4 linked regions of the Homo sapiens genome follow. The protein of the gene in region 3 purifies or fractionates together with the protein of the main gene of each other region. This does not show direct contact. Each region holds a gene or a part of one and is shown on either strand. Other genes may lie near its edges.

Region 1 (5,452 bases), on a different chromosome or scaffold from region 3:
GACTAACATGGCGAAACCCCATCTCTACTAAAAATATAAAAATTATCCAGGGGTGGTGGCAGGTGCCTGTAATCCCAGCTACTTGGGAAGCTGGGGCAGGAGAAGCACTTGAACCCGCGAGGTGGAGGTTGCAGTGAGCTGAGAGCGCCACTGCCCTCCAGCAGCCTGGGTGACAGAGCGAGACACTGTCTCAAAAAAAAATAATAATAAAATAAAAATAAACCATCAGTGATAGTAAAAAGCTCACTTAAGCTCATTCACCTAGTTTTATAGATCAGACTTAAACCTCTTGTTTATTTTGTTTTGCTTTATGTATCTATAGTTCCATTGTTTTTAAAATTTAAAATTAATTTTAAACCTTATGAATGCTTTCCCTACAGATAAAATTATGTAACTAGAACAATTTAACTCATATAAATTATTATTTAATCAAGTCCTTAATTTTGAAGACTTCATATTGATATGTCTTGAATACTTGAAATCTATAGTTAACTAGATATTTCTCTTATAACCTGTCCTTATAAATCTACATTATAAATAAAAAGTCCAGTGTCCCTTCCTTCAGATTAGCAGAAGTTTCAAAATTACATTTAAAGTATTTTCTTTGTTTTCCTTCATACTGATTTTCATTTTTATTGTTTGTTATAGAACCTCTAAAATGCAGACCTCCAGCTCTAGATCTGTGCACCTGAGTGAATGGCAGAAGAATTACTTCGCAATTACATCTGGCATATGTACCGGACCGAAGGCAGATGCATACCGTGCACAGATATTACGCATTCAGTATGCATGGGCAAACTCTGAGATTTCCCAGGTCTGTGCTACCAAACTGTTCAAAAAATATGCAGAGAAATATTCTGCAATTATTGATTCTGACAATGTTGAATCTGGGTTGAATAATTATGCAGAAAACATTTTAACTTTGGCAGGATCTCAACAAACAGATAGTGACAAGTGGCAGTCTGGATTGTCAATAAATAATGTTTTCAAAATGAGTAGTGTACAGAAGATGATGCAAGCTGGCAAAAAATTCAAAGACTCTCTGTTGGAACCTGCTCTTGCATCAGTGGTAATCCATAAGGAGGCCACTGTCTTTGATCTTCCTAAATTTAGTGTTTGTGGTAGTTCTCAAGAGAGTGACTCATTACCTAACTCAGCTCATGATCGAGACCGGACCCAAGACTTCCCGGAGAGCAATCGTTTGAAACTCCTTCAGAATGCCCAGCCACCTATGGTGACTAACACTGCTAGGACTTGTCCTACATTCTCAGCACCTGTAGGTGAGTCAGCTACTGCAAAATTCCATGTCACACCATTGTTTGGAAATGTCAAAAAGGAAAATCACAGCTCTGCAAAAGAAAACATAGGACTTAATGTGTTCTTATCTAACCAGTCTTGTTTTCCTGCTGCCTGTGAAAATCCACAGAGGAAGTCTTTTTATGGTTCTGGCACCATTGATGCACTTTCCAATCCAATACTGAATAAGGCTTGTAGTAAAACAGAAGATAATGGCCCAAAGGAGGATAGCAGCCTGCCTACATTTAAAACTGCAAAAGAACAATTATGGGTAGATCAGCAAAAAAAGTACCACCAACCTCAGCGTGCATCAGGGTCTTCATATGGTGGTGTAAAAAAGTCTCTAGGAGCTAGTAGATCCCGAGGGATACTTGGAAAGTTTGTTCCTCCTATACCCAAGCAAGATGGGGGAGAGCAGAATGGAGGAATGCAATGTAAGCCTTATGGGGCAGGACCTACAGAACCAGCACATCCAGTTGATGAGCGTCTGAAGAACTTGGAGCCAAAGATGATTGAACTTATTATGAATGAGATTATGGATCATGGACCTCCAGTAAATTGGGAAGATATTGCAGGAGTAGAATTTGCTAAAGCCACCATAAAGGAAATAGTTGTGTGGCCCATGTTGAGGCCAGACATCTTTACTGGTTTAAGGGGACCCCCTAAAGGAATTTTGCTCTTTGGTCCTCCTGGGACTGGTAAAACTCTAATTGGCAAGTGCATTGCTAGTCAGTCTGGGGCAACATTCTTTAGCATCTCTGCTTCATCCTTAACTTCTAAATGGGTAGGTGAGGGGGAGAAAATGGTCCGTGCATTGTTTGCTGTTGCAAGGTGTCAGCAACCAGCTGTGATATTTATTGACGAAATTGATTCCTTGTTATCTCAACGGGGAGATGGTGAGCATGAATCTTCTAGAAGGATAAAAACAGAATTTTTAGTTCAATTAGATGGAGCAACAACATCTTCTGAAGATCGTATCCTAGTGGTGGGAGCAACAAATCGGCCACAAGAAATTGATGAGGCTGCCCGGAGAAGATTGGTGAAAAGGCTTTATATTCCCCTCCCAGAAGCTTCAGCCAGGAAACAGATAGTAATTAATCTAATGTCCAAAGAGCAGTGTTGCCTCAGTGAAGAAGAAATTGAACAGATTGTACAGCAGTCTGATGCGTTTTCAGGAGCAGACATGACACAGCTTTGCAGGGAGGCTTCTCTTGGTCCTATTCGCAGTTTACAAACTGCTGACATTGCTACCATAACACCGGATCAAGTTCGACCCATAGCTTACATTGATTTTGAAAATGCTTTTAGAACTGTGCGACCTAGTGTTTCTCCAAAAGATTTAGAGCTTTATGAAAACTGGAACAAAACTTTTGGTTGTGGAAAGTAAGTGGGATACTTGGAATCAAGGCATCTCTGTAGTACAGTCTTCTTTATTTTTTAGCATAGAAAGTTGGGGATGTGTTAATTGTATTTTTAAGAATATATTCTAAGTTCTGTACTTCAAATAATAGCACAGATTTTACATCTGATTGACATAGTGTATGTTAATGTAAGTTTTGCTTTCCAGTGATTACCTGATACGTAAGCCTATTTGAACAAAGTGAGAATGAACTTTTGTTTCTAAGAAGTCTTTATCTTGAAGCTATATAACATGAAAAGTGAGCTCAAATTTTTTTTAGTTGAAGATTACATATAAAGTTGTGTCTGATTAATATTCATCTTTTATTGAAGAAAGTGCCTTCTGATGGCCACATAATTCTTAATGTCAGCTAGTATAATGGTTTACATTTGGACAAAGTATTGCTTAGTGTTATTTAAGTAGATTTAAGATCTCAAAGCTAAAGTGCCAATTTTTACTTTCTTCAGCCAATTTGTTACCTCTTTTATGGTTTTTAATTTTTATCAGGACTAACATTTTCAGAAATAGCAAGGTGTGATCTAGTATTAGATTCACAGAACTGAAAGGTTAATTAAGAATGTTGGTTATTTTCACGGGAGCGTGTGATATTTAACATTAATATTTTATTTGACACTACAGCCTGTAATACTGCTCTCTTTCAAAAACAAGTTTTCAGATTTTTATAACAGACCCATTTTGTTTTATGAAACATGTTCATTACAGAAACATGAGAAAATAGAGATAAGTAAAAAGAATAAAAGTCACTATTATCCTACCACTTTGCGGGACACACTATTAATATTTAAGCATAGATTCTTCCAGATGTTTTGTTTTATACAGCAGTAGGATTGTGTAATGTATTCTCTCTTGTAGCCTATTCTTCAAAGCGTATCTTCACTTTCCATGTTAACATAAATGTCCTTTTATGATTGTCTAGGATTCCATGGATGGATGGAATATAATTGAGTCATCTGGTAGAGCGCATATAGGACAGGACGCTAGGTTGTTTATCTTTTGTTTATTGTAAAGGAACTATGTGGGATGCATTTGGTGATCTTTTTAAAAAATGTATAAATTTCTTGAGTAATTCCTGGATTAAAGAATATGCACTTTTTAAAGCTTTTGGCTTGCATTCTAAATTGTCCTCTTGAAAAAGTAGTTCCTGTGTAAAACTCCATCTGCACTGAATCAGAGCTATGGCAGCATTGGGCAGTAGGCAGTTTTGGTATTTGTTGGCATTCTTTTTGCATTTATTCAAAAAACTGAAGGTAGTGAACGTAGAGCAATGAACAACACAAATATCCTTGGTCTCGTGGAGGTTATATTTAAGTTCTAATGTTTTCTCTTGTGAACAGTGCAATTTGAAATGACAAATTGAAACACTTTTAGTTGTTGAATTTAGACAGTTTGTGTATATAGTTTAAATTTTTATTCTTGGTTTGCCTTCTGTTTTTATGTTAAAAGATTGTTGCAATTTTTAGTTTTTCCCTTTGTAATATGTGATTGTCTTTCATTAGAATTCATTTTTTGTTTTGTTTTGGTTATTTTGAAACAGTCTCGCTGTGTTGCCTAGGCTGGAGTGCAGTGGTGTGATCTCAGCTCACTGCAACCTCTGCCTCCTGGGTTCCAGTGATTCTTGTGCCTCAGTCTCCCTTGTAGCTGAGACCACAGGTTTGCACCACCACACCCAGCTAATTTTTGTATTTTTAATCGAGATGGGGTTTCACCATGTTGCCCAGGCTGCTCTCGAACTCCTGGCCTCAAACGATCCACCCACCTCAGCCTCCTGAAGTGTTGGGATTACAGGCATGAGCCACCACGCCTGGCCTTTTTTATTAGAATTTGGACGTTAAACTTCTTGTCTTCAGTTCTTAGTTATATCTTTTAACATCCTAAAACATTCCACAATATTCATTACTGTCTTTATCCCTTTCTATTTCTATATAAACAGCACTATAAACTTGGTTTCTTTGGTATTGATGTCAAGGAATTCTCTAGTTTTTCTTTCTTGGTGTTTAATTGCAGATCACTCCCACCTTCTTGGGTCTAGCTATTTAGATTTATCAGCATTTGCCCTCTAGCTGTTAATGTTTTATTTAGCTCTGAAATTTGGTCTTAATATTTATTATCAGTTTTTTTCAGTTACAGCTTCTGCCAGCCCTGACTTTAAGCTCCCTTGATCACCAGCCACAGGGCCACTTCTTTCTATGGAGTTTAGAAATTGTGACAAGGAGAGAAAGTCTAGTTGGTTTAGCTCATCTTGGATTAAGCAGAGCCCATGTCTCTCTTGTTAGCTCAAGAAATGGTCTTTCCTGAATTAAGGTCTACTCTGTTAAATAAGAATCTAAACCTGAAAGGAATAGTCAGGATATTTTAAAGCTGGAAAGAAAATTTGAGCTGGGGAGTCAACTGTTGTTTCTACGTTATACCACAGAGAAGCTTTCTTTGTCTCAACACTTTGTGATTTTGAGTGTTTCTGAAGCAGTTGGATAGGAAGCTTACTGAAACTTTAAGATTGCTTACTCTCGCCACATGCGATTGTCTTCATCGAATATAATAATCTTGGATTAAATTATCTCAAGTGTGGCACTGCCCTGTCTTTAGCTATTGTTTCAGAAACATGAATGCTAGCCTGATATTTAATGTCTTCAAAAATTACATTCCCTTAGTAGAAATACACATTTTACTAAACATGTCACTTGGTTATGGTATTAATGCTTAACAATTTTGATATGAATATGGTAATTCTAATTTATG
Region 2 (5,029 bases), on a different chromosome or scaffold from region 3:
GGGACAGTTAAAGGCTAAAATGGGACCCCCCAGGCAGCAGAAGTGCCTCCCCCCACCCCACATTCCAGTTTTTACCCTGGGCCTGACAACACAGGAAGCAGGCTCCCTGCCAACACTCACACCCTCTACCATACAGACACTTGCCCCCAGTCTCTGGTCAACACTCTCTCACAGGGTCCTCACCCTCATCAGCCCAACCCCTGCTCTGTAACAGAAGGGAGCTCTGCCAGGCGGAGCCTCCACACTCAGAGAACAAACTACAGAGTCAAGGACCTGCCCCAAGTGGGTGCCATGGGGAGAGGGCCTCGGTGGCGGGGGGAGGCTGGCTGGAGGAGGAACAGAATGGCAGAGCCCTGGAGTCCAAAGGCCCTGGCTGACAGAACTGGCAACACGAAGCCTCAGCCGCCCTTCCCAACAAGCCTGGGGCCCTGACCCACCGAGCAAGACTCCTTTCCTGGAGGAGCTGCCACTCTCTAACCTCTGGCTCTAACTGAGCCCCATCAGAGACAGACAGTCAAGGCTGTAGTCTGCAGACACCTGGCTGGAGCTGAGGGCACAGCAGCCCCTCGAAGCAGCGGGTGAGAGGACTTACTGGCTATGCAGAGCAGAGTGTGGAAGAGCCACATCCTTGCTGGAGCAGAGGCGGCTGTGTGGGAGCCGAGGCGAGTGCGACACATGGGCCGTGGCCCACTCAGCTTCCCCTCAGCCAGGAGGCCAGGAGGCGGGGACAGAAGCACACACACCAGCAAGGACCCACAGACCGGCACTTTCAACCAAACAGAGACACTCCGGCTCGTACACAACCAGCCGTGTGGCTTCCTCAGTTGTGGGCTGGACCCTAGGAGCTTAGGGGCCACTGTCAGCCCCACTCTACCACCCACACTTTGACCCACACTTTCATGGAATAGGGAGCTGAGGTTTGGCCAGGGCCACAGTTCTAGGTGTCCTCAGCAGATGCTGGAGGTGCAGGAGCAACGTGAATCCAGCCTGCCGTTCGTATCATCCATTTGAGTCGGTCCCCTGTCCTGCCTCAGAACCTACCACCAGACATCTCAGCCCAGCTTCCAGCCCAGGGTCCTCGGTGGTGGTTGCCTCAGCACTGAGACAGGCGTCCCCCTCCCATAGGAAGTGCCTCCCCAGCCAAAAACTGGGCTCTTGTACCAGCCCATGCACTCAAGGCCCTGGGGTTCTGGAGGGCCAGGTGAGTGGAAAGACCCAACGCACTGAGTGAAATCACTGCCTCGATTCAACTTCGGCTGCGTTCATTCTCTTTAAAACCAGGACAGCAACCTGACGTGGAAACTGACTGAACAGGACTCTGAGTTACCAGAATAACAGAAGTAAAATTCTATACATCTTCCAGCATACCTGTGATGCATCCCAGCATTCCACAGAACACGCCGTTGACAGCTGGCAGTCGTGTTTAAGTGCTGATCTGAGATCTGTACTGTGTGACCAAGTCTGTGACACAGAAGGAACTCTCCTGCACCCCTGCTCCCCAGGCTGCTGGAAGTGCAGAGTGGCGCCGTCAAACAGAACTCTGCGCGGGGATGGAACTGCTCTAGGTCGACGCTGTCCAGGATGGTACTCATGAGCCACATATGGTACTAAACCCTTAAAATGCCACTAGAACAACTGATGAACTGAATTTTGTATATTTTATTTAATTTTAATTAAACGTAAAAAGGCAGGACATTCCAAGGCTCTCTAACACGAGTGTCTGCAGCCCCATTCGCTTTGAGATGTGAATGTGTTAACCCAGGGTGGACAATGGTGTTGACTTCATTACTAGATAAAAATCCATGTTATTTTGTTTCTCGCATTGAAAGGCTGCTTGGCTAAGGTTCTGTGAAGATCCGATGACATTTCCAACACTTTGCCTTGTCTGCTTTGCTCTGACAAAGTGCTTATGACTACTAGATCTTGCTCGGTTATGTGAGATTACAATTCACCGGTTTCCATCCTGTATGAAACAGAAGTTAAACAGTTGTAAAAGCAAAATTCCAGGTCTGGTGGTTTTCCTGCCAGGTCATGATGAAACCATCCTACTTCTGTTGAACCTCGTCCCAGGCAGGATCGGGGCCTGCGGCCTACAGCCTGTCTTCCCAGCGCTCCAGGGCTCGTGACCCTCCTCCTCCCCTCACTTCATTCTGCGCTCCAAGGGCACTGGGGAGAGTCACAGTGGTCTCCTCTCCCCCGCATTGGCCTAAAGCAGGAAGAGAGCAGCCCAGTCACTGAGCAGATCCCTGCTAGGGCAGGGCTAGAACCCAGACTGCAGCTCACTCGAGATTCCTGAGAGAAGACTTTGTGTTTGGAGTGTGAACGTCAGGGTGCCTCGGGAAGCCAGGGAAAGCTGATGACTGGGTGCTGGACAGGGAGCAGGGCCACTTCTGTACCTCTGCACACTTCTAGAATGCGGACTCATCCTGCATCCATCCAGTATGTATTTATCCAAGCGTCAGTGCCTCTAGTCATGAGACACACAGGGGTCCGTAAAGCCCACCTGGCGGTAGCTGCTTTCCCCACAAACCCAAACTACATCCCCAAGGTCAGGGCCAGGCTCTGTTGAGTAATGCTCCCCATCACAGCACGCAGCACAAGGCTGGCTGTTTGACAAATACACACATAACCAAAAGACATGTGAATGTGGTTTCCCAACTCACTTTAAACAAATATTCCGGGACCAACTTCAAGGACGTTCTACAACAGAAACTGGACTGTACTCTTCACAAACATCAATGTCATGAAAGACAGAAAGGCTGAGGACCTGCTCCAAACGAAAGGAGGCTGCAGAGAGGACAACTAAAGGCAGCGCTTGATCCTGGATTGGATCCTGGACCAGAAAAACAACGGCTTTCAAAATCATTATTGGGACAGTTGGCAAATTTGAAACAGGAACTACAAATTAGCAACTCCTGGGCTGATCAGAGAATATTACACATTTCCTGAATTTGAGAACTGTACCATGGGCATGTGAGAGGCTGTCCCTGTTCTTGGGAAATGTTCACTAAAACATCTTACGGATAAACGAGCATGATGTATACAAATAATCCTCAAATGGTTCATGGTTCAGAGAGGATAGGAAGAAACAGGGGTGAGGGAGAAGAGGAGGGAACGAATGAAAGAGAAAATGTGGCAAAATGTTCTTTGTTGTACCCTTCAAACTGCTGTGATTTTGAAATTATTTCAAAATAAAGTTTTAAATATTTTAAAAAATTTTTTTCTTTCTCCCCTTGATACCAGGAAGAATAAAGTTTTTAAAAAATGGGCAGGTGGGCCAGGCGCGGTGGCTCACGCCTGTAATCCCAGCACTTTGGGAGGCCGAGGCGGGCGGATCACAAAGTCAGGAGATCGAGACCATCCTGGCTAACACGGTGAAACCCGGTCTCTACTAAAAATACAAAAAAAATTAGCCAGGCGTGGTGGCGGGTGCCTGTAGTCCCAGCTACTCAGGAGGGTGAGGCAGGAGAATGGCGTGAACCCAGGAGGCGGAGCTCGCAGTGGGCGGAGATCATGCCACTGCACTCCACTTGGGTGACAGAGCGAGACTCCGTCTCAGAAAAAGTGGCCAGGTGCACTTGTAGTCACAGTTACTTAAGAGGTTCAAGCTACTTGGGAAAGCTTGAGCCCAGGAGTTTGAGTCCAATCTAGACAACATAGTATGAACCTGTCTCTTTAAAAAAAAGTTGCAAAATGTTCATGGATGGAGGAGACGTGCTCGGCGTGAGGTGAAAGGGCTGCCTGTGGGTCGGGCGTGGTAGCTGACACCTGTAATCCCAGCACTTTGGGAAGCCGAGGTAGGCGGATCGCCTGAGTTCAGGAGTTTGAGACCAGCCTGGGCAACATGGTGAAACCCTGTCTTTACTAAAAACACAAAAAATTAGCCAGGCGTGGCAGCGTGTGCCTGTAGCCCCAGCTTCGGGAGGCTATGGTGGGAGAATTGCTTGAACCTGGGAGGCGGAGGGTGCAGTGAGCCGAGACTGCGCCATTGCACTCCAGCCTGGGCGACAAGAGCAAGACTTCATCTCCAAAAAAAACAGAAAGGGCTGCCTGCTGTCTTCAGAGTGAGTCAAAAGCACTGAGGCACAGCCTTCAGACACAGGAAATGGTTCTATTCTCCCACTTGCCTTCTGACTCTTAGGAAGCCAGAAAGAGTGACGGCATTGCTGAGACCAGAGCCCAGGGCTGCAGAGCAGTGGTACTCACGACCTTTGAACACTCGGTAGGAGTGCCCTGCTCAGTGCCAAGGCCTCACATGCGAGCCCTCATCTGAGCCTCTCAGCCACCTACAAGGTCAACCCGATTTCTCAGATAAGGATGCTGCCTCTGAGAGGCCACATAGCTAGTAAGGAGCAGAGCTGGGACTCCAAACAGGCCTGTTTCCTCCAGAATCAGGACTCTGAACCACCACAAACTCTCCTGCCTTCAGCTCTTTTGGTGTGTAGACTTTTTTTATTTTTGTTTTTGAGATGGAGTCTTGCTCTTTCATCCAGACTGGAGTGCAGTGGCACAATCTCAGCTTACTGCAACCTCTGCCTCCTGGGTTCAAGCGATTCTCCTGCCTCAGCCTCCCGAGTAGCTGGGACTACAGGTGCCCGCCACCACACCCGGCTAATTTTTGTATTTTTAGTAGAGACGGGGTTTCACCATGTTGGCCAGGCTGGTCTCGAACTCCTGACATCAGGTGATCCCCGCCTCGGCCTCCCAAAGTGCTGAGACTACAGGTGTGAGCCACGTGCCCAGCTAGGTGGTGTGTAAACTTTAAAAAAGCAGAGATTTCATCCCACAAATGCAGACTGGGATCTCCACATGACCAGGTGCTGTGGACTGAACTGTAAATGTCCTCCAAATTCATATGTTGAAGCCCTAACCCCCAATGTGGCTCTTCTTGGACATATGGCTTTTAGGAAGTAATTAAGGTTAGATGAGGTCATAATCCAGCAAGATTGGTGGCCTTACAAGAGCCATGTGCAGGCACCAAGAAAAGCCTACGTGAATAAGACAGCAAGAGGGTGCTCACCATGTTGGC
Region 3 (5,234 bases):
TTCTTCTTTCTTCTTAGGGATTCCTGTATTCTAAGAGACACACATTATATTAACCAATCATTTTTCTCGCCTCTAAAAACTCACATTTAAATTTGTTCAGAGAAATAGAGGTGTTCTTTACCATTTTTAAAATCTAGTTCCTTCCAAAACGCTGGTCATGGTCATAATCTAGTTCAATTGTAACACTTTAAATCTCTGTATCTTCAATAAAAGGTATAATGCACTCATGAAAACATGAGGAATTTATAAGTGCTTTCAGCCAATACAGGGGCACCAATAACAAAGATCTGTATAAAAAGAGTTTGGAGAAGCTATCATGTTAATGCACAAACAAGTAGAAAAGAAAAGATATACACAAAACTTATCTTACCTGCTGAAAATTTTCGTTTCCCCAGTCTCTCAGTAAGACTCAATCTAACCAAGGGTTCTTCTCCTGAAATGGCAAAAGCAGAATTTCTCTATCCTTAGTCAATTTTTCTGTATTCAGTAACTACTAATGGGTACAAAGTATGTTCTGATATTAGTGTAAATCCACCCAGAAAGTCTCTTGAAAATCAGGTCTCAGTCTTAAGGAAGGCCATTATATCAAAAAAAAAAAAAAAAAACCCAAACCTATTAATAATAAACAGCCAAACATACAGCCTAAACAGAAGCAATAGCATAGTACTAATTATTATTATTATTTTGATAATAATAATAGACTCTTGCTCTGTCACTCAGGCTGGAGTGCAGTGGTGCCATCTTGGCTCATTGCAACTTCCACCTCCTGGGTTCAAGCAATTCTCCTGTCTCAGCCTCCCAAGTAGCTGGGACTACTGCGCACACTACCACACCTGGTGTTTTTTTTTTTTTTTTTTTTGAGACAGAGTCTCACTCTGTCGCCCAGGCTAGAGTGCAGTGGCCCGATCTCGGCTCACTGCAACCTCCACCTCCCGGGTTCAAGCGATTCTCCTGCCTCAGCCTGAGTAGCTGGGATTACAGGCGTGCACCACCATGCCCAGCTAAATTTTGTATTTTTAGTAGAGACAAGGTTTCACCGCGTTGGTCGGGCTGGTCTCGAATTTCTGACCTTGTGATCTGCCCGCCTCGGCCTCCCAAAGTGCCGGGATTACAGGCGTGAGCCACCACACCCAGCCTAATTTTTGTATTTTTAGTAGAGACAGGGTTTCACCATGTTGGCCAGGCTGGTCTTGAACTCCTGGCCTCAAGCGATCCGCCCGCCTCAGCCTCCCAAAGTGCTGGGATTATACATGTAAGCCACTGCGCACAGCCTAGAATAGTACTAATTATTAATAGCAGTCGAGTATAAGACAGATTGTATTCTTAACCAATTGGTTATAAAGCTGAAACTATCCTTTTGCTTATGCACTTTGATATGTTGAATGAAACTGTACTCTACTCCGATGTTAACTGTCCAATATAACTATCTCTGATCACCTCAGGAAGAAGTGAGCTCTCTTTCTTCTAATTCTTTGTTGTTTGAATTGCACAAACATTTAAATATATCTATATCTATAATTCCTTATTAGGCTTAAAATTATTAAGTGAAAATACTTCGTTACAGGCCGGGTGTGGTGGCTAACACCTATAATCCCAGCAATTTGGGAGGCTGAGGCAGGCAGATGATTTGAGGCCAGCAGTTCAAGACCAGTGTGGCCAACATGGTGAAACCCCGTTTCTACCAAAAATACAAAAATTAGCCAGGCGTGGTGGCGGGTGCCTATAATCCCAGCTACTGGGGAGGCTGAAGCAGGAGAATCACTTGAACCTGGGAGGCGGAGGTTGCAGTGAGTGGAGATCGCACCATTGCACTTTAGCCTGGGCGACAGAGCAAGACTCCATCTAAAAAAAAAAAAAATTAATGGCCAAGAACGGTGGCTCACACCTGTAATCCCAGCACTTCGGGAGGCCAAGGCGGGCGGATCACCTGAGGTCGGGAGTTTGAGACCAGCCAGACCAACATGGAGAAACCCCGTCTCTACTAAAAATACAAAAAAATCAGCCGGGCTTGGTGGCACATGCCTATAATCCCAACTACTTGGGAGGCCGAGACACGAAAATTGCTTGAACCCAGAAGACGGAGGCTGCGGTGAGCTGAGATCATGCCATTGCACTCCAGCCTAGGCAACAGGAGTGCAACTCTGTCTCAAAGAAATAAATAAAAAACTTTATTATATATACCTATTATTCTTTAGTCACATGGGAAGCCAATAAATGTATTGAGTGGATATAAACAGTAAATGGAAAAATATATGTGAGGGCTGCTTGACAAAGAATTTCAACCTTTTAAATATTAGAGTTGAATGTACCAACTTTTCATCTTTAGATTATCTCATCAGCATACTAACAAATTCCTGAAAATTCATCAAAGGTAAAAGATACCCAAGGATTTTGCATTCCCAATTATATAAAAGTAGAGGCTTGACAACTCTAAGACCTATCTATACCTTACCTTGTTTGGTGGAGAGAGTTACTGTCCTCACCACAGTCCTGACATTTTCTTTTTCAGGACCTGGAACGGGCTCAGGGTGGAGTAAAAGACTGGAAACTCCTGAAGAACCCTCTGAATAAGGCAAGTCAAAGAACAGCAAATAATTTATGGAAAATAATGCTATCCCAAGTCAAAAAATTTGTTTTTGTAACCAGTTAAGTCCAATACAGACTGATATTATGACTATAAGCCAATCAGCCTTTCTGTATCTGTTTGCCTACAGTCAAATGGAGTAGTGGTGAGGGGAGCCTTGGGCATGATGTGAAAACAAAATATAAAATTATTTTGAGTGACTTAGGCACCCAAACTACTTTTATTTACCAATAAGGCTAATATTTACCAATAAAGCTAGTATTATTCTAAAATTAACCTCAGAGGTACACTAGCCATCAGGTGTATCAATCCAACCTATTCTATTTAATCATCTGAAAACACAACTCCAAGGTTGCTATAAAGCAAGCCTTAAAAGAAGGTTTTTAGAACCATTTCTCTCTATATATACTACACTTCACACTATAAATTTTAAGGCTGGGGGCTGGGCGCAGTGGATTACCTGAGGTTGGGAGTTCGAGACCAGCCCAACCAACATGGAGAAACCCTGTCTTTACCAAAAATACAAAATTACCCAGGCGTGGTGGCGCATGCCTGTAATCCCAGCTACTCAGGAGGCTGAGGCAGCAGAATAGCTTGAACTGGGAGGTGGAGGTTGTGGTGAGCAAAGATTGCGCCATTGCACTCCAGCCTGGCAACAAAAGCAAAACTCTGTCTCAAAAAAAAAAAAAAAAAAAAAAAAAAAAAAAAAAAAAATTGGGGGTTGGAAATACAGAGCAATCAGGCTGACGTAAGCTCCAGAAGAAAATCCTAGCAGCTCTTGAGGAAGAACTCTTCTACTAGAAAATGACGTTTTTCCTTTTTTTTCTTTTTTGAGACAGAGTCTTGATCTGTCGCCAGGCTGGAATACAATGGTGCGATCTCAGCTCACTGCAACCTCTGCCTCCTGGGTTCAAGCAATTCTCATGCCTCAGCCTCCCGAGTAGCTGGGACTACAGGTGCATGCCACCCCGCCTGGCTAATTTTTTGTTTTAGTAGAGACGGGGTTTCACCATGTTGGCCAGGATGGTCTGGATCTCCCAACCTCATGATTCGCCCTCCTCGGCCTCCCAAAGTGCTGGGATTACAGGCGTGAGCCACCACGCCCAGCCTTTCCTCTCTTAATATAATTTCTTTTTAACCACTATAAGAACTTACAGAATTAATATAGTTCTTATATGATGTTCTTCAGAGCTATATTTTTCAAGATATACAAGTTCTTTCAGATTCTTTATTGTACCCAGCTCTGAAAAGTTAGGGACTGAAACACAGCTGCAGTGAATTAAAAGCAACCACAATTTAAATAAGTCTGTGTTTTACTTCAAACAGGCCATGGAAATGAAAATCTATTTGCTCATTTTGGCTGTTGCTTCTAGAAGCGTCCTTAGTATTCTTCCCTAGCAACATACAACTATCCATGCCAAAACGTGATGACTTACCACCTTGCTTCTTAGATTTTTCCTTCATTTTCTTTGACTTAATTTCCTCAAGAGTTTTTATTCCAAAATTCAAACATTCACCTGAAAATTCAAATAGAAATTTTATGAGGAACGGGAGCCTTTTCATCTTTGTATTTTATCTGTACATAGCAGGCATTTATTTTTGAATAAATGATCAACAGAAACTAAGTATAGGTAAGTATGCGTGTAGCATGGGAAAAAGAAGAGGGAGGTCAATGATTGTGAACTAAATTTCAAAGGTAGTTTCAACAGTGCTATAAGAGGCACCAATCTAGCCTCTTCTTACCTTGCTTTATATTGACTGCAGGTTTCCGGACAGAAGTCACTCGTAATCCATTGTGAACTTCAGGAGTTGGTTGCAGGGTAGGTGTTTTGGTTTCATCACCTTCCTCAGAAAACTGATCTATATATCAACATTTAAGGCAAATTCACAATTAAAAATACGCCTATAGCTTTAATCCTGATTCTGCCCAATTCACTATGAGACCCTATTTATTTGCCTTAAAGAAGGAGCCAGACAGAACTTACCATCATCATCTTCATCATCATCTGCAGCATTAATTACAACTGGTGGATGCGTGGGGCTAGGAACATTTTCGGAACTTTCTACTTTCATAACGCTCCGCAGCTGAGGGGAAGGATTGGACTGGACAGACAATTTGTTCTGCTGAACTGAAAGTTGGCTAGCCTTCACTTCCTCTTCTGGTGACTCAGGCACAGTGGGCAACACAGCTAAACGCACAAAATCAGTCATAAATTAAAAACAGAAGATACAACCCCAACTTACCAAAAATTCCTGACCACCTATGAAAACTATAGTGTATTTGTCTTATGAGCATTTATACTAAATTTCCTCATTTAAGTTCTAAAGTCCCAGGGAGGGAAAAGATGTGCTTTTACCTAATTAACTCTCCACTAACTCTCCACTGTACATAAACACAAAGTGGGCACTCAAAACAGAATCAACAGAAGACTAGAAGAAGCATAGTACCTGTTCACAAATTCTAGACCTTTAATTTTAATACTGCAATTCTAGGCTTTTTGCTCAGCAAAGAAGTAGCTTCTAAGACCCAAGCATATGACACTTACTTGAACCAAACCAGAAAGGAATAAGTCTACTTTTTTCCCTTAAATTGAGGTAAAAAGATGTAGCCATCAAATTTTAATCACGTAGCAACTGTGGCTTTTAAATG
Region 4 (5,234 bases), on a different chromosome or scaffold from region 3:
CATCTACTTTCCCAAGCTAGCCAACTTCAATTCCCTTTTAGTCATCTACTTCCTACTAACAGCTGTAACTAGGATGAGTCAAAATCAATTGCCTATGCTCACCAGATCCCTGATAAATTCCCATGAAGCCACCTGAAAGGTGGTAAAAGCAAGGTAAAACGTGGTGAAAGCAAGGTAAAGAAGGTAGATTTCACAATTTTGTTTTTTAAAAAGGGGAATCTTCCCTGAATTCTTTGAGGTACTAAGTACGTGGTTTAATGCATATTTTCATTCTTGTTAGCAGTTTAAAAATAATGTTTCAGAGACTGTATTCACGATTGCTAAAAAGCATTTTTTCTACTAATCATTGTTCATGGGACTTAACAATGGAAGATAACTGGGAAAGCAGTAAATATAGGAAACCACTAATAGTGTCTCCTTCTTCCTACCCTGACCCTCTCTTTGGCTTCAGAAAGTGACGAGGAAAATGTATCTTTCACAAAGAAAAGTTATACCACAGAAGGTACTAAAAAGCAACAACTGCCTTTGGGGACAGGAAACTTACAGAGTGGGGATTATTATAGAGGGATAACATACCGAGTTTCTATTTCAATAAGAGGGAAATTGGTTTATATTCTGTTCACACTTGTTTCAAACCCTCTCCTCTAAAAGCAATGTGTTTTTGGAATTCAAGGAATGTACGTTCTTTCCCCAACCTTAACTGGGGGTCAGTCTTATGGCCACCATATTTGTCTACAATATAACTTTTAAAAAATATAATTTTTGCCCTCAAATACTCTCCTATCCAATGCAATGTAACTTTGAAGGAGAAGTGATGAAGGCCACTGGTTGCCAGATTGTATCACACAGCCAGATGCACTTTGCTTTGATGAAGAATCTAAGTGATGCAGGCCCCCACTTAGCTTTGTAAACTAAGGCAGGGGTTTATGTCAGCTCGAGGTAGAAAGCAGTGAGAATTGGCAGCTGATGGAATAGAAAGGGGACAAAAAGAATAAAAAATAATTGACTTTAGTCTGCTTTCCATTACCGTAGCCCAACTCTCTGGGGCCATTTGTGTGGTCTAGACAACATTCTTAGAACTTGACAGTCCCTGAGAACGATATTCTAGGTTGGCATGGGCAATAGTTGGCATTTACACTGGTCTTGGAATCATAACATTTGAGAAGTGTAAGGCACAAGAGTCCTCATCTGCCCAATCCCCTTCATGTTGCAGGTGAGGAAATTCAGGCCCAGTGCTGTTAAATTACTTGCCCAAGGTCACAGGTCTTTGCTAGTGGCAAAGCCAAAACCGAAACGGGAGACTCTTGAATTCTTAGAAGCCTCATTCACCAAGAGAAGGTTAACTGTGTCTCATGAACCCTATATGGGAAAATTGGGGTGTGTAGGACACATTTTAGATTTCCTTCAGGAGTGGTTACCTTTTTTAAAAATGCGCACATAAAGAAGTGTCCTTTAAACAGTTGGCTGTGGGGGTAATGACTTATTCCCAAAGATACAAAATAAGCAAGGCTACTTTGGATGTTAAATGAAAGGGAATTATTTAAAAAAGGAAAGAATGACTCTTCAAAACGTGATAGTAATATTTTTAAAGATTTATTTGATATTCGCAAATTTGTCTTCTGTGGTTATATCAATTCTGTTGCTCAAAAAGTGACACATGCTTCATAGAGAATAGAATCTAAAAGGATTTTTGAGACTTTCTTGGGGAGAAGGACACACAGTGCCCCTCTGGTAGTAACGGAGTTTTGTCCTGGGCCACCAACATCCTGAGTGACTGTCATGCTTTCAGAGGTCCCCAGCCCTTGCCCAGTAACATTGAACAAGGTGTTCTTCCTCTGTGGTTAGCTCCAAGATTTCTGGTTTAGCAAAGTGGCTAATCAGTTAACTCTTTAAGAGGAAATTGTCATTCCTTTAGCCAACGCTAATTTCCTTAAAATGCCTTCTTTTCCTTTTTGGAACTGAGAAAGCTTAAAAATAGAATTGCTTCAAGCCCTGAGGCCTGAAAGTGAAACATAATCTAACGTGGCTGTAGTGCACTGACTCGTTAGGGGCAGCGATATATGGCTTATCTGTAATCCACAAACCAGAAAGGTGCCCAGTGTAGATACGGTCTAACAGCCAGTGAGCATTAAGTACCAACTGATGAGAGTAGTAATCAGTGAAGCTGATTTCCTCTGGAAAGTTTTTTGGCGAGTAGAGTTTGTCTTAGAGAGTGGAGGATTTGAATGCCTCTTGACTTTCTGCTGAGGAGAGCTTCTGCCTGCTCTAGTTTTTATGATCCTGAAGGGTGGTAGCTCTGGACTCTGAGAATGATGGGCAGTGAACTCAGGGTCTGTATATTTCGTTCCACTCTGCTCTTCCCCATTTCTGATGCTTTGGGGGCTCCATTTCTGATACATAACCAGAGCAGCATCCCTGAGGCCCACACTATCTCCTGTGTGCCTTTCTGCATCTGGCAGTCCCTTGGAGAGAAGGAGGCTCATGTGTTTATAACCTGCACCCTGTCCTAAAAGGCATAGTGAGGGGCAGCTGAGTATAAGGTCAGGCCACTTAGCCTGGAGCCAGAGTGCCTGTGTTCTTGTTCTGGCTCTGCTCACTAGCCCTGTGACTTTGGGCAAGAAACTTGGCCTCTATGTTTTCATTTCCTCATCTGTAAATTGGGAGGAATGATAGTACCTACCTTATGGGGTTAGGAAGTTGCAATGAGTTCTTATTTGTAAAGTGCTTAGACCAGTGTCTGGCACGTAGGAAGGATTATGTGTTAAGTAGAAACATGGTATAATTGCCCTTCCTTCCACAGGCATCTCATGGGCTGTCCTTTTGTGATCCATTTTCTTGGTTTGTTTTTGTTTTGAGACCAAGTCTTGTTCCGTTGCCCAGGCTGAAATGCAATGGTGCAATCTTGGCTCACCGCAACCTCTGCCTCCTGGGTTCAGCCGATTCTCCTGCCTCAGCCTCCCCCGTAACTGGGATTACAGGTGTGCGCCACCACGCCCAGCTAATTTTATTTGTATTTTTAGTAGGGACGGGGTTTCACCATGTTGGTCAGGCTGGTCTCGAACTCCTGACCTCAGGTGATCTGCCCGCCTCGGCCTCACAACGTGCTGGGATTGTAGGCATGAGCCACTGTTCCTGGCCTGATCTATTTTCTTAACTAGCCCTTAGTGTTCATTTCACCCCATTGCACCTCTCTAAAAATGGTGATGATGGGAAGGAGAAGTAAACCGTGGAATGGCTCTCGCCTAATGCAGTCTTTAGGGTCTAGGGTCTTTGTATTTCTTTATAAGCTGCCCATTGACTTGGGAAAAAGAACTGAAGAATAAGCTTCTTGTAGTAGTGCTATCAGTAGTGATAGTGTCATGAATAAAACCTTTATTTCTGTGATTAAATGTATTAATAAAGTGACACTACTAGCATGAATGACACTATTAACATAATTTCAATCCTGTACAGTAAACCATGGCTTAAGACTGAATGGCAAGAATCAGGGTGTCTGAGCTGCTGGGCCCTGCCAGACTCGGAGCCCCTGCCAGTGTGTGTATATCAAGGCAGGGCGGGGGGTTGTCTTGCTCTCCAGAGGCAATGGAACCTGCCTCTAGGCCTCCCTTTTCCCTTCTCATCTCCTCACCCCTCCTTTTTTATGTTAGATCTATTCCTACCCCTTCCCCTTCGCCTTGCCCTCTGCCTGGCTCTTAGAAGGAAGCAGACTTGCCACCTTCAGTGGCTGCTTCCCGGACTTACCAAATTAATTACCACCTTTTCCTGCCATCAAGGGATGGTGAAATCTTGCCTTTTCGGTCTTGCTTCCCATTCCTCTGCACTCGGCTGCTGCGACAGTGTGGTGCTGCAGGCACCGCAGATTTCCCTCTGGTGTGTTTGCTCGTAGCTTCTCCCTCTCCACCTTACTCCTTTTGTTGCCCTCCTCCCACTGGCCCATTGAGGCCCACATCAAGGGAAGGCGTAGGCACAGCCTCCCCCAGTTTCCCAGGGGCTTGGGCCTCTCCCTTCCCTTGGGTTACTGCTTCTTTCCTGTAACACCTCATGGTCTGCCTCGTAGCCTAATCTTGCATGTTCATGACTTACTCCTCCTCCAAACCTGTAAGCTCCAAGAAATCGGTCTGGCTTGCTTTTTCATCATGTGGTCCCTGCAGTGCCCACTACACTATAGGCTCAGCTACCTGAGAAGAGGCATTTTCATTAGACACCTTCCATGTGCTTGGTACCCCATTAGTCCTATTGGGGATACAAAAGAAGTATGAGGTGTGATCCGCCCACTCTTGAGTTTACAGTCTGTTGAGGAGACAAGCTTTAAACACAAGTTGATCTGCAAGCAAGACTAAACAGGCGGTAGGGAGAAAACAAGACTCATCTAGTCCTCAGTTGTGTGGTGTCGACAGAAAGTGCCAGAGGAACAGGTGAGAGTCACCAGACTCCAGCTGGGCCGTGAGATGGGGAGGCCACGGTTGTCAATCTTGGAGTACATTAGGGCACACATGTGAATCTCCCAGGGCGCTTTTTAAAAATACTGATACCTAGGCCCCACCCAGACCAATCAGAATGTCTAGAGGTGAGATTAAGACATGGATTTTTTTTCTTTTTTTAATGTGCTCAGTTGGAACCACTGGGCTTGGTGGAAAGGGAAGATTGGGGAGGCCCTTTCTGGCGGGGAGACATAAGTCAAAGGCAGGCAGGCAGAAAGATTGGCGTCAGGAGGCAGCATTTGGACTAGAGTCATCAGTATGGGGAGATAACAGGACCGAAGGTTGGATGTGTTGGCAAAACTGATCTAGAATTGGAGTTGCCTTTCTACAAGGGCTGGGCGGGGAGTAGATTGGGGGTGGGAAGTTTGAGTGGTGTGGGGATTGTTCACGAATAAAGAAGAAACGTACTATCAAAAGGGGGCCTTGGGACCTGGTCACAGGCAGTGGGTGCCAGAGGGGATGGCAGGCCTTGTGTTTTGCCAGGTCTTCAACCTTCTCAAAATGCCAGAAATCTACCAGTTTTAAAATGTTGGCTGAATTTAAAAGGAAATTGCGCAGGCCAAACAAAATAGGTCTCTAGGCCAGATTTGGCTTAAGGGCTGCCACTCAGCAGTCTCTGGTCTATGGGATAATAATAGCTAATGTTTATCGAGTGCCCGCATGTATCGAGGGCACTAAACTAAGTGCTTTACTCGCATTAGCACATTATCCACATAACAACCTATGAAGTGGGTATTATTATCATCCTTGTTC

The links.
Region 1: the proteins of ZC3H11A (region 3) and FIGNL1 purify together in Homo sapiens (affinity purification with mass spectrometry; one large-scale study listed by BioGRID and IntAct). This does not show direct contact.
Region 2: the proteins of ZC3H11A (region 3) and NCBP3 purify together in Homo sapiens (co-immunoprecipitation; 3 studies listed by BioGRID and IntAct, with this or other methods). This does not show direct contact.
Region 4: the proteins of ZC3H11A (region 3) and E2F3 purify together in Homo sapiens (pull-down; one large-scale study listed by IntAct). This does not show direct contact.

The regions. Positions count from the first base shown.
Region 1 is NC_000007.14:50,442,494-50,447,945, reverse strand, and holds the end of FIGNL1 (fidgetin-like protein 1), read left to right. Parts: intron 1-648; 5' UTR 649-658; coding exon 659-2,683; 3' UTR 2,684-3,813; downstream 3,814-5,452. UniProt on the Homo sapiens protein: Involved in DNA double-strand break (DBS) repair via homologous recombination (HR). Recruited at DSB sites independently of BRCA2, RAD51 and RAD51 paralogs in a H2AX-dependent manner. May regulate osteoblast proliferation and differentiation.
Region 2 is NC_000017.11:3,800,519-3,805,547, forward strand, and holds the end of NCBP3 (nuclear cap-binding protein subunit 3), read right to left. Parts: 3' UTR 1,640-5,029; downstream 1-1,639. Other genes in the region: ITGAE (integrin alpha-E isoform 1 precursor), read right to left, coding at 593-626. UniProt on the Homo sapiens protein: Associates with NCBP1/CBP80 to form an alternative cap-binding complex (CBC) which plays a key role in mRNA export. NCBP3 serves as adapter protein linking the capped RNAs (m7GpppG-capped RNA) to NCBP1/CBP80.
Region 3 is NC_000001.11:203,828,990-203,834,223, reverse strand, and holds part of ZC3H11A (zinc finger CCCH domain-containing protein 11A), read right to left. Parts: intron 4,774-5,234; coding exon 4,570-4,773; intron 4,445-4,569; coding exon 4,328-4,444; intron 4,102-4,327; coding exon 4,021-4,101; intron 2,564-4,020; coding exon 2,453-2,563; intron 434-2,452; coding exon 371-433; intron 1-370. UniProt on the Homo sapiens protein: Through its association with TREX complex components, may participate in the export and post-transcriptional coordination of selected mRNA transcripts, including those required to maintain the metabolic processes in embryonic cells.
Region 4 is NC_000006.12:20,407,784-20,413,017, forward strand, and holds part of E2F3 (transcription factor E2F3), read left to right. Parts: intron 1-5,234.